Homo sapiens: one gene and its partners. The protein of the gene in region 1 purifies or fractionates together with the protein of each later gene. This does not show direct contact. Each region holds a gene or a part of one and is shown in the gene's direction. Other genes may lie near its edges.

What was found.
Region 2: the proteins of ADAMTSL5 (region 1) and FBN1 purify together in Homo sapiens (pull-down; one study listed by IntAct). This does not show direct contact.
Region 3: the proteins of ADAMTSL5 (region 1) and FBN2 purify together in Homo sapiens (pull-down; one study listed by IntAct). This does not show direct contact.

Annotation. Positions count from the first base shown.
Region 1 is NC_000019.10:1,509,321-1,515,167, reverse strand, and holds the start of ADAMTSL5 (ADAMTS-like protein 5 isoform 2 precursor), read left to right. Parts: upstream 1-2,148; 5' UTR 2,149-2,205; intron 2,206-3,440; exon of another isoform or gene 3,441-3,487; coding exon of another isoform or gene 3,488-3,543; intron 3,544-4,007; 5' UTR 4,008-4,224; coding exon 4,225-4,323; intron 4,324-4,434; exon of another isoform or gene 4,435-4,437; coding exon 4,438-4,529; exon of another isoform or gene 4,530-4,614; coding exon of another isoform or gene 4,615-4,739; coding exon 4,740-4,800; intron 4,801-4,909; coding exon 4,910-5,018; intron 5,019-5,847. UniProt on the Homo sapiens protein: May play a role in modulation of fibrillin microfibrils in the extracellular matrix (ECM).
Region 2 is NC_000015.10:48,406,783-48,412,026, reverse strand, and holds the end of FBN1 (fibrillin-1 isoform a preproprotein), read left to right. Parts: intron 1-647; coding exon 648-1,037; 3' UTR 1,038-3,714; downstream 3,715-5,244.
Region 3 is NC_000005.10:128,303,216-128,308,062, reverse strand, and holds part of FBN2 (fibrillin-2 precursor), read left to right. Parts: intron 1-859; coding exon 860-928; intron 929-2,114; coding exon 2,115-2,240; intron 2,241-2,426; coding exon 2,427-2,552; intron 2,553-2,980; coding exon 2,981-3,106; intron 3,107-4,847.

The DNA of each region.
Region 1 (5,847 bases):
AGCACCTGCTGTATACCTTCCTTGCAGGATGCAGCACCTGCTGTATATACTCTCTACAGGATGCAGTGACTGCTGTATGCACTCCTCTGAAGGTGCCATATCTACTGTATACACTCCTTTGCAGGGCAGAGTCTACTCTATGCATTTCTACAAGATGCAGCACCTGCTGTATACCCTTCCTGCAGAGCATAATGCCTGCTGTGTGTGCTCCCTGTGGGCGCTGTGCTTTCTGTATACCTTCCCTGCGGGGCACAGGGCCTGCTGTCTGCACTCCCAGTGGAGCTCTGTGGACTGGACATCTGGGAATGGGGCACATCTGAGGAGGATACAATTGTCCTAATGACACATTGACACATGTCCTGAGCTGACTTCTTTCTTTCTTTCTTTCCTTTTTTTTTTTTTTTTTTTTTTTTGAGACGGAGTCTCGCCTGTCTCCCAGGCTGGAGTGCAGTGGCGTGATCTCGGCTCACTGCCACCTCTGCCTCCCGGGTTTAAGCGATTCTCGTGCCTCAGTCTTCCGAGTAGCTGGGATTACAGGCACTCACCGCCATGCCTGGCTAAGTTTTATATTTTTAGTAGATACTGGGTTTCACCATGTTGTCCAAGCTGGCTTCAAACTCCTGACCTCAGGTGATCCGCCTGCCTCGGCCTCCCACAGTGCTGGGATTCCAGGCATGAGGCGCCGCGCCCGGCCTGCCCTTCTCTCTTGACCCCTTCAGTGAGGGCCTTCTTGACATCCCCGCAACCACCACCCCCCAACCTGGGGCCATCAGTGGTGGGCCTGGGCTATTTTCTCCAATAGTCCAGGTCAGAAGGTGGGGGGTCATACATTCCAGGGGGCTGCCTTACCCGCTGGCCTGGGACTGGCTGGGTTGTTCACAGCTGTGCACACAGTAGGTGCTCAATAAATGGCATATGGGTGGCTCTGCTGACATGCTACAGGCTGGAGGGCAGACTGAGTTGGACCAGCAACACCCTGTATGTCCCCAGCAAACCTCTCTCCCTGTGGTCAGCGCTGTGGGACAGCAGGGTGGGCTTCCTGGAGGAGGGGGTGCTCAGACCGAGCCTGGGTGGAGCCCAGGGAGCAGGACAGTCCCTCCACCCCCTCCTTTAGTGCCCCAGTCCCTCAGCCCGCCCGCCAGGGGGCGCCGTGGGGCGACACCAGAAACTGGTGGAGCCCAGAACCCAGGGCCTGGTCTCATCCCTGCGTGGGTGGGCACGGGGCGGCTCACAGACGCCCGGCGGGAAAGGGTGGGGTGGGGGGAGTCCCGGGGTGCCCCCTCGCGTTGCCGGTCCGCGCAGAGCCGGATTCCAGATGGAAGGTTCGCGGTGGAGATCCCTGCCGGGCCCACTGCTGGGATGGGGAAACTGAGGCCGGAGAGGGTGTGGCCGCGGCTGTGAGGGAGAGGGACCGCCTGGACCCGGGTCTGGCTCTGAAGCCCCGCTGGCAGCCCCGGGGCCCGGCAGGGAGGGCGGGAGGCGGGGTGGGGCGCGTCCCCTGGTGACAGCAGCGCCCGGGAATGCGCCAGCTGGGAGGGTCTCTCCGCCCCCCGCGCGCGGCCCACGGGGCCGAGCCTCTCCCCAGTGCGCTGGGGCCCTGCGCTGGGGGTGACCGGGACCTGGGTCGGGGAACCCCCGGATGGGAGCCCAGGCGCGCCAGGGTCCCCATCCACGAGCAGGTCGACCCCCCGCGAGAGGGGTGAGGGGCAGGACCAGGGGAGGGGGCTGTGACCGGGGATGGGGACGCCGGTGGGACGCAATCCGGGCGTCGGCGGGGTAGGGGCAGCGCCCGGGACTCCCAGACCCAGGGCGGGGTGACCTCGGTTCGCGCACATTCCCGGGCCCTGAGCGCGGCGCCCGGAATAGCAGCCCCGGGGCAGAGGAGGGCGGTCAGTCCCCGCGCCGCGCCCCCGCCCGAGCCTGCCAAGGTCACCCGGACCCGGGCGCCCGACACCAGCCTGCGGCTCCGGGACCCCTGCGCTCGCGTCCGCCGGGCAGTCCCCTGCCGCAGATCCGCGCCCGCCGCGCGAGGGCGCCCGGGGCCGCCGCCCCTCCTGACCCGGGCCTGGGCGCGCCTGCGGAGGCCGCGGTGGGAGGGACCGTCCCAGGCTCCCCACCCCGCCCAGCACCTTGGGCCCCGCCGCTTCCGCTCGCCCTGGGGCCGCTCAGGGAGCCGGGACGCGCTGCCTGGGCTCCGCGCAGCCGGTAAGTCCATCTGCCTATCCTCCCACTTTCTCCGGGGGAAACTGAGGCCCAGAGGTGCGGCTTGCCTTGAGATCCCTCCGCCAGTCCGGGCTGCAGCCCACACGGGGAGGGGAGAGCCTTGATTCTGGGCAGGGCCCATTGAGGAGGGGGTAGGGTGGTCCTTGTAGCCCCCCACTTTTCACCACCTAGACCCCCACTCCTCAAACCAGGCTTAGAGTCCGGTGGGGGTGGTCAGAAGGTCAAGCCCCCTCCCCCTGTTTTTTTTGGTTGGTTGGTTGTTTTTGAGACTGAGTCTCACTATGTCGCCCAGGCTGGAGTGCATTGGCCCCATCTCGGCTCACTGCAACCTCCGCCTCCTGGGTTCAAGCGATTCTCCTGCCTTAGCCTCCCAAGTAGCTGGGATTACAGGTGTGCACCACCACACCGGGCTAATTTTTGTGTTTTAGTACAGATGGGGTTTTACCATGTTGGTCAGGCTGGTCCCAAACTTCTGACCTCAGGTGATCCGCCTGTCTTGGCCTCCCAAAGTGCTGGGATTACAGGCGTGAGCCACCGCACCTGGCCCCCCTCCCCTTGTTTTAAGTTTCTGGTGCAGACTTCTTCCTGCTTCCTGGGCCAGCCCAGGCTCTAGGCTCAGAGAGGGGCACGGATGCAGCAGACCACACAGCTGTCTCAGTACCTAGAGATACCCAGGACCCTAGACCCTTGGTGCCTCAGAAGTCCAAATGCTGGAGCCAGGGAAACAGGGTCCAGGTGGGACCCAGCCTCTTCCCCAGCTGGTGCCCGGGCCGGGGCTCACCCACCTGCCTTCAGGCTCTGCTGGCAGCAGGACGCCCTGGCTCACTTGGCGGCTGCTTCCCTTCCCCCCTCTTTCCCCCTGCAGGCTGGGGTCATGAGGAGGGTGTGGATGGCAAGTGACTTCATCCCTGCCCTGACAGGATGGAGAAACTAAGGCCCAGAGAGGCAGTCAGCCTCCTCCCCTTCCCTGCTCCAGCCTCAGCAGTGGCCCCTTCCCTCCACGGGCTGCCCCGGAGCTCAGTCCCACCCCCTCCGCCGATGAGGCCATGAGGCACCGAACGGACCTGGGCCAGGTCACCCCCTCCCTGTCCCATCCCCAATCCGGGGGACTCCCTGCTGTCTGGGAGCTGAGGGAGCCCTGGGGCCGGGGTGCAGCTGAGGGCCTCTTCTAGGGACCCAACTCCTGATCCAGCCCCTGCCGGCCGCACCTTCCGCAGGGTGTCACAGAATCATGGACTGAGTCCACTTGGCCCCCACTGCACAGATGGGGAAACTGAGGCCTGGGAGAGTGGAGTGGCTGGCCTCAGGCCACACGGAAAGGTAGAAGCAGTGATGGTGGGGAGGGCGGGGAGGGGGCCCCAGCCCTAGGAGGCACCTGTGTACTATTTTTGAATGATCCCTCCAATCATCAAGCATCGATTAAGCACCTACTGTCTGCATTATAGCACAATACACATATCAATAATATTGTAGGCTGGGTGCAGTGGCTCATGCCTATAATCCTAGCACTTTGGGAGGCCAAAGCAGGTGGATCACTTCAGGTCAGAAGGTTGAGACCAACCTGGCCAAGATGGTGAAACCCTGTCTCCACTAAAACGGCAAAAATTAGTCCGGCGTGGTGGCAGGCACCTGTAATCCTAGCTTCTCGGGATGCTGAGGCAGGAGAATTACTTGAACCGGGGAGGGTTGCAGTGAGCCGAGATCGCACCCCTGCACTCCAGCCTGGGCGACAGAGCGAGACTCCGTCTCAAAAACAAACTAACTAACAACAATAATAATTGCAGATGACATTCTGAGTTCTTCCTCTCCATACCGGGCTCCACGTCTCCTGTCTTCTTTACCTGATCCACAGGACCCCTCAACTTTCCTGTAAGGGAGGCTCTATTACCCCGTTTTTCAGAGACGAGAGGTAGGGCTCAGAGAGGTTTAGTTACTTTCCAAGATCACACAGCCAGTCAGGGCAGAGCCGGGACACAACCCTGTGTCTCTGGCGGTGGCTCTATGGACTCGGCCCCTCTGTTCCCCAGGCCCCACCTCTTCCAGAACCTCCTGCTCTTCCTGTGGGCCCTGCTGAACTGTGGTTTGGGGGTCAGTGCTCAGGTAAGGGGGGGCATGAGCCCAGGGGGTGGCGAGTGGGAATGGGGACCCAGTCAGCAGTGTGGGGTCACCAGCGTCCCCCTACAAGGCTGACCGTGCCTCTGTCTCCCCAAGTAGGGTCCGGGCGAGTGGACCCCGTGGGTGTCCTGGACCCGCTGCTCCAGCTCCTGCGGGCGTGGCGTCTCTGTGCGCAGCCGGCGCTGCCTCCGGTGAGCGGGGCCCGGAGGGGGTCCCTGCCCCTCCTCCCCCGCCGGCCCAGCCCGGCCCCTGGCCGCACCCTCGGCCTGCCCACACATGCTGTGCCCTTTAATCCCCCTGATCCCGCTGGAATGCGGGTGGGGTTGGCGGGGGCGGAGGGTGGAAGGCCAGCCCTGGGAGGGGGTCCCTGGGGGTTCTCGCCACACTCTGTCTCCCTTCAGGCTTCCTGGGGAAGAACCGTGCTGGGGAGACTCCCATGAGTACCGCCTCTGCCAGTTGCCAGTAAGCCCTGCCCACCTCCCAGACCACTCTCCCACCCCAGACTGCCTGAAGCCCACCACCTGCCCCTTGGGGTTGTCCCAGCCTCTGGCTCACCTATCTCTGTCCCTAGGACTGCCCCCCAGGGGCTGTGCCCTTCCGAGACCTACAGTGTGCCCTGTACAATGGCCGCCCTGTCCTGGGCACCCAGAAGACCTACCAGTGGGTGCCCTTCCATGGGGGTGAGTAGTCTGGTCTCCTGTGGTCAGAATTGGTCCAGAGCGAACAACTCATTAGTCTCAGGGAGAGGGTCTTGGAGGGTTGCAAAGAGAAGAGGGTATTAGTGCTAGGGCTTTGAAGGATATGTAGGAGTTAGTGAAACAGAAACAGCATATGTTAGGCGTGAAACAGGGGCAGAGGGAAGCAGGGTTCATTCTGCACAGGGCTGAACACCCAACTAAGGATTGACTTAGAGCTGTATCCAGAGGCCAACACTTCTCAAACTTATCCCAGTAGCAGGAAATGTTGCTGCATTGAGCTGAAAATAGCGAGTTATATAACTACGTGCCCGGGTCAGTGCGCCTCCAGATTTCAGGGAGACAGGCAGCTTCACACGCCATGGGGAAGGCAGACACAGATATAAGAAAAGCCTAGAATGGACAAAGTGCCATCCATCAACCTCATTTCCTTCCTTCCTTCCCTTTCTTCCTTCCCTTCCTTCCCTTTCTCCCTTCCCTTCCTTCCTCCCTCCCTCCCTCCCTCCCTCCCTTCCTTCCTTCCATCAATCTGAGAATTGGAGGAAACCTGCTGTGATCCCACCCCCGCAGAGGCCCACTAGGGCCAGCCCAGGATCCGTTCCAGGCAGGGTCCACCAGCCAGGCTCAGGGAAATGGGAGCCAGAAGGAGCTGGAGAAGGAGGAGTGGAGATCAGGGCTGTCGGCCTTTGTGTTTGATCAGACAGCTCATTTTGCCCCACTTCCAGGCAGAAGGGGAAACTGAGGCCCAGGGAGGACCAGCGACACAGCTCAGTTGTGCGGGACTCAGTCCAGTCAGTACTGGACAAACACTTCA
Region 2 (5,244 bases), on another chromosome or scaffold:
CCAGCACATGTGGTCCCAGAGAGGCAAGTAAGAAGCCAGGTGAAAAGCATTGAATATTAGCAGATCATCACAGTCAGGAAGTAGGCTCATAGGTGTGTCCTTAGGAGAAGATGGTTTTACGTCAATGAATCAAATTGAAATAGTCTGGTTCTTCGTATTGGTGCTGCAACCCATCTGCTGTCATTTAAGAAATGAGATAAGTCTTTGGAAAGAACATAATCTATTAAAACAGTGGTTCTCAAACTTTAGCATGCATCTGAATCACCTACTAGGTCTTGTTAAAATTGATTGTTGGGAGACATCCCAGGGTTTCTGATTCAGTAGTTCTGGGGTGATGCCGAGAATTTGCATTTCTAACAGATTCCCAGGTGATGCTGATGCAGCTTGTTCAGGGACTACATTTTGAGACCTCCAGATACAAATGATTTCAACCTGCCTTTCTTCCTGACATCAGTTAATATTTTCAAATATTACAAATATGTGCCAATTTAATACACTTGTGGTCTAAACAAAATGCTTTCAATATTGTGTATGCAGCATAAGGCAGAAAATTGTATTAGTGTGAAATTTGAGTCATTTTTTCTTTAATATGAGAGCTAAGTGGCATATGTACATTGTATTTAACATATTGCCATGTGTCTTTCCAGGATCAGTCTGAGACAGAAGCCAATGTGAGTCTTGCAAGTTGGGATGTTGAGAAGACAGCCATCTTTGCTTTCAATATTTCCCACGTCAGTAACAAGGTTCGAATCCTAGAACTCCTTCCAGCTCTTACAACTCTGACGAATCACAACAGATACTTGATCGAATCTGGAAATGAAGATGGCTTCTTTAAAATCAACCAAAAGGAAGGGATCAGCTACCTCCACTTCACAAAGAAGAAGCCAGTGGCTGGAACCTATTCATTACAAATCAGTAGTACTCCACTTTATAAAAAGAAAGAACTTAACCAACTAGAAGACAAATATGACAAAGACTACCTCAGTGGTGAACTGGGTGATAATCTGAAGATGAAAATCCAGGTTTTGCTTCATTAATTCACCATCCAGAGACCAAATAATTAAAAGAAAAACAAATATAGATAGGTAGAACTATATTTTCCCCCAATCAGAATCATCATATCATAGGTACAATCTTTCACCAAGTAAATTTGTATAAATAAGCACTATTCTTTGTATTACCAAAGCAAGGTACAGGTGACTACCCTAGTTCAAAACAACCACTTTCTCAGGCTTCTCATGTGTGTAGCTAAGCTACCTTGTCATATGTGTTGATTCTTGAAAACTGGGACGTGTATTTCCATTGGGGGTTGGCCATTTATGCTGACATGCCATCCTTCCAGCAAACGTACGGGAATGTGCTTTCAATTGATGGACTACTCTATTTTTTGCAAATTTGTAAACTTTGCTTCTCCAAATACAAGTACTAGGTTGTCCATTTATGGTACCTATTTGGTGCTAGTAAATTTTCAAACTAGATTTATAAATGCACTGTAATATGTACACAACTTAGAAACCAAATTACAAGTATTCAGTTCCAATACTTCATTAATTTCAATCAACCAAAGTTAGTTCAGTAGCTTATCTCAGTTATGAGTATAATACATTACATGTAAATTAAGTGTGTGTATACTGTAATCGTGCTATTTTTTATCATTGAAACATTTATAAACTAGAATAATAATGCCCTTAATGTGAGGGTTTGTAATGGTGCTTATTAAGACCAAAGACTTGTTAAATGTATACACCAAGTGGTAATGAAATTTCGGTGACTGGCCCACACGTGCATAGAGGTCTGGGAGGACCAGGAAACAGCCTCAGTGGCCAGAGGATCACCAGTGCATCCTTCATCACAGCATGTGCAATATGCCAAGATTACCCTCGGTCATTCCTGTCAACAAGGGGTCAATGTCATAAATGTCACAATAAAACAATCTCTTCTTTTTTTTAGTTTACCCCTTGGCTTTGTGTTCTTGCATGGATTTGGGGTTGGAGGGGCCATTCCGGAGGCTAAATAAAGTCTCCTGGATTTAAATTATCCTGGGTCTCTTACTTATGGCTTATGAAAGTACCAAATGTATAACCACTAGAAGAAAATTTAACATATGAGTCGATCCCTTGTTTTATCCATTGAAAGTAGCAGAGTCTGGTGTCATTAACCTGACTTGCTTGTGAGAAATTTAGATTGTAGAGTCATTTCTGAAACATGACCTAATTCATCTTGTGACTTTTAAATAGTCTTAAATACCAAGTTCAGTCATTGTCTTAGAGCACATGAATTTCATTATAATAGATTTATCATGCCCCCCTCTCAAATATACACAGTTTTGGCAAGCCTTAGGTGTTCTGTTCCATTTTTTTTTCCCCTAAACATCTTTCGTTAGTCAATGCTCATCTAATTACAAAGGGATAATCCCAGACTGTATCCAATTGCTGTAACTTTTGGTTTCTTAATGTCATAATTTTTAAAGTCTGTTTTATTTTAAGTGCAATATTGAGTATTTAGCTGTTAGGCTCAATCCGTCGATATGAAATAATTTTTTAAATCCCTAAGGGCAGGAAAGCATTTCGTGGTAGTGAAAATAAGAGGAAATAAGATGGCATGAAGGTGGTGGGCGGAGAAACTAGGTAGGACACAGGAAAGTGCTCTCAAAAATCTTTGAAGAGCTCAGCTGAAAAAAATGGAGTAGATTTGGCTCATACTATTCCGGAAGGCAAAACCAGGGTCAGCTGATGTCAGCCCCAGTTTAATACACACGGTCCCAATTATAGAGCTACTCACTGAAAGAATGGGTTTCCTTGCATTGTGGTGAGCTCCCTGTCACAAGATAGAAGAGTTTCAGTCTAGGCTTAATGGCAACCATTGGACAAAGATGCTTTCTTCCACCTAACAGGCCATTAACATCTTAAAGGTATTTTTGTATCTCTAATTTTGTTTATAATAGGTGCTCAACAGAATGAGCTGAATGGCTGTTACAAAGGGGGTTTGTACCTTGGGTAAGAGATTAAAATATAACTCAAAATTTCCTTCTAACGCTGCACCTATGGAACCATGTGATAGAGGTGTATTAAAATTGTTATCGAAGAATATATAGCATATGGTAAACAACAGTTTGCATATGGAAAATGTCTTTGATAATTTAACCAGAACTGCATTATATTCAATAACGGATTTTCTTTATAACAAACAACAGGGGAAAATGGAGTTGGCACACAGTGGATCACTTTGATATTTTTAATAGTCCAAGTCTGGATTTTATTTATTCCTGAGCCAACAATTTTGAACAGCATATTTTCCATGTTTCTGACTGTAACAAAACATTTTCCTCATTGTTCCATTGTAAATATTCCTCTTGTTGGAACTCTTTTTAATCCTGAGATTTAAACCTGTACCTTTCAATTGTCTGTGACCTTTCAATTTCACTTTCAATAGTTGAAGAACTTGGCTTTGTAAATCTCTCAGAAGCTTGAAAATATCTTGTCTCTACCCCCTCAGCCCATTTCATTTGCCAATAATTATTTTGTAAGTAGGGTTGAAATGAACTCAGCTGGCCTTGTGAAATGTTTAAACTTGCACAAACAACTACATTTTTGTTCAACAAATAGCAGTTTACTCAGCCAAAATCACTTTGGATATTGCCATTACAAATACTGTTAAACTTCAGAAATCATGTCTGTAAATTAGATGAGCCAAAATAAAGGACAATTGGGTTGATGCTGCATTAGTATCCTTAAAAGTTATATACCCATAAATGTTAGGGATTTTAAAATTACCATCAACTTGGTCCACAGAATATATTTTATTCTGGTTTTAACTGTAGTTCTTAGAGAACTGTATTAGAAATGTAATTATTAGGAATGTAATTATTAAATGATTTAAGGACATTGTTTTTAAAGTTAGAAGATCATTACTGGCAGAAATATTAGTTTCACATTTATAGCTGAAGACAGATATTTACCCCTTGCCAATTTAAAATAACACTTTGTAAAAAAGAGAGAAGAAAAAAAAAACAATTTACTTCATTATGCTTTTTTTGAAACCCAGTATGAGCCTGACATTACGTATGAGTTAGGAAAGGATGATCTATATTATTCTGAGTGTTAGGGTTGGAGAGATAGAAAAGGGCTGTACACTTGACTTTGCAAATTTCCATGTATATTCATGACTGGTTTTATTCACAGGATTGGATCTCAGTTAAAGACATTCTCACAAATATCTGCATAAACATGAGGGTCTTGTACATTTGACATGCATTTGGCAAGACCTGACAAAAATCACAAAATCTGTTGTTTCAACTAACTGCTAATAAATCTAAAATGGTTTCTTTTTTTCAAACAAAGTCATAAACCTTGTTTTAGGACATAGGTTGCTTTGAATCCTTGATTCAAACCTGAATTATGGCTGGGCACTGTGGCTGATGCCTGTAATCCCAGCACTTTGGGAGGCCAAGGTGGGCAGATCACTTGATGTCAGGAGTTTGAGACCAGCCTAGCCAACATGGTGAAACCCCATCTCTACTGAAAACACAAAACGTAATCAGGCATGATGGTGCGCACCTGTAGTCCCAGCTACTCGAGGGGCTGAGGCAGGAGAATTACTTGAACCCAGGAGGCGGAGATTGCAGTGAGCTGAGATTACACCACTGCACTCCAGCCTGCATGGAAGAGTAAGACTCCATCTCAAAAGAAAAAGAAAAAAAAAATCTGAATTATAACTTCTACAAATGGATGTCAGTTTCATTTTTTACTGTTGGATGGTAGAAGGACTGAACCAAGTTATAGCAGGTAAGTGGATGCGATTTCTGGCTAGCTCCACCCTCTGCTATCTCTTCATTGTGATTTTTGATCTTTGTGACCATCCCCATTTCATAAATGAAGGCAAAATTATCCTCTCTGTGCTCCCCTGTGCCCCCTGTGGGTTGGTTATGGTGTCAGCTAGAAGGCATCAAGCCTTCCAAGTACTTCTGGAATCCATAGCTTGGGTTCAAATCTAAGCAACACAGAGGTGGAGATTTTAAGCAAAAAGCAGCTGCTCCATTGAGCATTTCCTAACTTTCATATCCCACCTGATGTATTCTTTGCAGCTGTGCTGGGAGTTGCAGAAATAAGAAGAGATCTGTTTCCTTTTTACCCTGAAATACTCTCTTGGGGAGAATTAAATCAAACCTACATGATCAACCTTTTTCTTCTCCTGGAAATGGAGACATTTGAAAACATCCTGATGATAATCACACATCCCATCAGT
Region 3 (4,847 bases), on another chromosome or scaffold:
ACAATTAGGGAGATTATACATATAAATTATAATTTGAAGATTTCCAGACAATTAGAAACCATTAAGTTGAGCATCTGTGGTCTTTCTATCTGTTCTCAATACTCGGTATATATTGATGGATGAAATATACAATATCCCTGACCTGATAGCACTTGGAATATAGTATGCAGTTTAAGTTTTATATAATACTGTTTTCAGGAGTTTTACTCACTTGTATAGCAGTGAGCGTCAGAAGCATTTTTCATCTTGCAAATTAGAATTCTTTTAAATTTCCATTGATTTGGTTAATTATGTGTAAGAATACTTCTTATAGTCCCTATTTTATTTCATAATGCATTGTTTTTGATGACTCAAATTTCACATTCCAATAGACACAGTAAAAAAAAAAAAGACAAAATTCGCATCTCATTCATTATACATTGTTTACCTATTTCCCCTCTACAACATTATTTTTGCATGTCTATACCTTTGTGCAATCTGTAATTCCTTTTTCAATTTGTACTTCTCTTTTTTTTTAATCTTTATGTATTGGATGTTTTTTAAAGCTCTGCATATTAAAAGAAAAAGTATTTAAATATCTAAATGGACATTTTGAATCTTATAATGATTTACTTGCCTTCTGATATCAGAGCAGTAAAAAGTTAATGAGAGTAATAGAAATAACAATGATAATAATGGTAAAGAATGCCTAGATCCACTCCTAGCAGAAGCTGGCATTGCTATCAAATAAATATAATTGAAATCAAAATGTCTGGTTGTGAATAATGTAAAATATATTTGTTTGTGAAAGTAATACAAAATGTTATTTTGAAGGAATTTGAGAAATTTAAGAGTGCATTGCTTTGTTTATATTTTAAAGCTGACTTTAAAACCATATGTGGAAATATTCCTGGATTCACCTTTGACATTCACACAGGAAAAGCTGTTGGTGAGTTTTTCCAGATTATGTTTGTTTTAATACATATGTGTAGCATTCTGTAAAAATCTATTCTATGTTTTTAAAATTCAAGAGTACCACAAAATATAATAATCTGGGATCCAATCTAATATAGTTAGATAAGAGAGAAATAACAGGCTTACAGACTCTAACCAAGTATTAATAATGATACTCCATCAGCGTAGTCTGGTGATTGGGTTATGGTAGTTATGTGACTCTCTCGATATTTGTCACATCCACCAAGCTAAAGCTTCAGTTGTCCTTGTCATGCACATTGTATTACATGACTCTAAATAATCTACCTTATTTTAACCTTTAGTTGCTATTTTCTTAAGTACATTTTTTAATTTTTGGTGTATTTTTGCAGTATCCCTTTTTACTGGTCTAAATATGAATGTGCAGACTTATTTTTCATATTAATTAATTCCTTCTAAATGTACATTGTGTTGCTCACTCTAGCTTCCTTCCTCAAAGATTTGATAAGCAATATAATTTTTTTTTTTGAGATGGAGTTTTGCTCTTGTTGCCCAGGCTGGAGTGCAATGGCGCGATCTCAGCTCACTGTAACCTCTGTCTCCTAGGTTCAAGTGATTCTCCTGCCTCAGCCTCCTGAGTAGCTGGGATTACAGGCACCCACCACCACACCCGGCTAATTTTTTGTATTTTTAGTAGAGATGGAAGTTTCACCATGTTGGTCAGGCTGGTCTAGAACTCCTGACCTCAGGTGATCCACCCTCCTCAGCCTCCCAAAGTGCTGGGATTACAGGCGTGAGCCACCACACCTGGCCTAAGCAATATAATTTTAAGTCTCCATTATGAATATATGATAAAATAAAATACATACAATGATGAAAACATAGCTTTTTAAACAAATGAATAGCAGCACTTAGGGTAACCTGAAGAAGGGGTTTGATTGCCTAGAAAGTTCATTTGCTATATTGACTCTGAAATTACTTGGTATATTTTATCAGCTACTTAGATTTTTTCCATCACTGTTTCTATTTTCTGGTATATATGTTTTTATAAACCAAAAAAATTAGCTATACTAGTATATAATAGATTTTTGTGACACTGAATATTTGTACTCATCCCAGGGTACATGTAGCATTATTCAAAGTTATATGGTAAGTATATTAAACAGAACAACATATATTTGACCAAATCTGTTCCATTTCAGACATTGATGAATGTAAAGAGATTCCAGGCATTTGTGCAAATGGTGTGTGCATTAACCAGATTGGCAGTTTCCGCTGTGAATGCCCTACAGGATTCAGTTACAATGACCTGCTGTTGGTTTGTGAAGGTAATCTGAATAAAGTATGTCCTTTATCCAGTATAATTTGGTATACATATATAGCATTTAGATGGTTTCTGATTTTTACTATTTCTTCTACAATTTTTCAAGAGTTGATCATCAAAGTGTGACGTGAATGTAATGCTAATACAATACTAAAAAGGACTCTTTAAAATGGAATTGTTGCTCTTTCAGATATAGATGAGTGCAGCAATGGTGATAATCTCTGCCAGCGGAATGCAGACTGCATCAATAGTCCTGGTAGTTACCGCTGTGAATGTGCCGCGGGTTTCAAACTTTCACCCAATGGGGCCTGTGTAGGTAAGAAAGAGGCTGACTCATTCTTTGGCACTGAGCACAAGATTCCTTAGATTTCCTATCAAAAAATACTTCAAGAATAATTTGGGAAAGATTTTCTCACTTAACCTGTTCATTTATAGTGAACCTATTTCACCATATCTTTTAGATGATTTTGTTAAGAAAATAGATCTCTTCAATGGATTTCCCCAGGATTGGACCTAAAATAAAATAATATCCTTCAGATACCAATAAACATAAAAAAATTTGCATGATTAAAAAAAGAGGGTTGGATACTTTGAAGTCCTGCTCATTTTGATTCAGCTGTTGTTATGGTTCATTTTCAGCCTGCCTATAATAATTAATAGCAGATTAGAGAAACACAACTGTGAAAAATGAAGAAATCTTAATAAAAATCAGATACATGTAACATTTATTTTTTTCTGTTTTAGATCGCAATGAATGTTTAGAAATTCCTAACGTTTGCAGTCATGGCTTGTGTGTTGATCTGCAAGGAAGTTACCAGTGCATCTGCCACAATGGCTTTAAGGCTTCTCAGGACCAGACCATGTGCATGGGTAAGAAGGGCATGTGGCTCCAGGGAGTGAAGTGGGGCTGGGGTTCCAGAACAGATCACAGTTCCATCAAGTGCCATGAGTAACTACTATGTCTCTGTCAGAAACAATCTTGCAAAAAATTAACTAGGTCAAACTATTTAAGTCTTGATTCAATATAAAATTTGCAAGCAGGGACATACTGCAATATATAAAATTTGCAAGCAGGGACATACTGCGATATGTTCGTCAGTTCAGTGATTCACAGCTTTTTCTCCAGAAGATGTTCACATGGCTTGACAAGAAAAAACCCTCTGAGCCACTTGGGCTTGTGTGGAACTTACCATAGCACCCGCTGCCCTTTACTTTCATGTTTCTACTCAAGACACCATTTTGGAATGCAAGAGAGTAGTAAGAGTGACAGCATTAAACTTAATAAATTTATACACATATGCACATACTTTTTTAAAACAAATTGTTGAATAGTGGGATTTATGTACATATTTTGTGTTTTATCCCTTAAAAATAGCTTTAGGAGCAAATATAGCCAAACTCTTTAAAAATTCCCAGTAGCTAATGTAATGGGTAGCCAAGTGGTAATAGAGCTTAGTGAGTACTTGCTGAGCTGATGATTAATAGGTTTTCAAAGACAGATGGGCTGGATGCCATGAAGCTGGGACTGAGTATAACCCCTTAAGTCTGATGTCAGCAGTTGGCTCTGCCTCTGCTGAAGAGTTTTCTTTCTGTGCTTTGCACTTGAAAGGGGAAAATTAAATTTAAAACTTGGCTACTTGTAATTAGCATTTTCTCAGTGTAGAAAAGGCTAGGGCTGTTCAGCTACTCTTGATATTCAAGATATTATCTATGTGAATATTAAAATCAGATTTCAGTACTGCAGGACTGGTTTCCTTCATGACACATCCATACAACAGGGAATACCTGGAGTATGTCTCCAGGTTCATCCATTGCCTCCTAAAGCCCTCCCTTTGGACTTCTCCTATAATGGCAGGGAAAATTCTCTAGGTGATGTTTATACAAAGGAATATACAGGATCTGGTCTTATTTGCATGAACTCCCTAAGAATGCTTGTTTATACATGCTTCTTCTTGCTGTACTCCCAGAGAGAGTATGATTTACCAAAAAAAAATATGAGATTTATGATTCAGAATTTCGTATGGGGAAAATCTGTCCACTCATAACAATTCTTCCATGATAAAAGCTAGTCAGATTCTTCAGTAAGACCTCCCTTATACAGAGCTTCCTTCCTAAAGAACAATACCAGCCCCCACCCTTTTTTTGGTGTGGTAGAGTTTCAGCAGCCTGGAATTCATAGTTGGGGAGTCTGCTGTCTCATATGATGAATGACCTTTCTAAATATTTTCTTAATTCAGTTTTTTTGAAGGCTAATAGTGAATTCTAATAAACCTCAATTTGGATTTCATTACTTCATACAATTAAGTAAACTAAAGTTTGTCTTTGTTTTTCTGCTCAAATTAAGGGATTTAAATTTCTGGGTAAGTGTTTATAATGCCTTTTATTATGAAAGAAATTGTTTCAGTATTTTAGAAGATCAGTTTTATTTACGATTATTAAGCAGACCTGCTCATTAATACATCTCTACTAGGGGGATGCTCTCTTAGGCTATGTCTGAGTATTGTCTGAGTACAGTCAGTACCTGTTAAACTGTACTATTTTCTTAGAATTTTACAATTTTGATTCTTGTAATTTTGATTTTTCCGTATCTCTTACTCATTTTCCTCAAGTA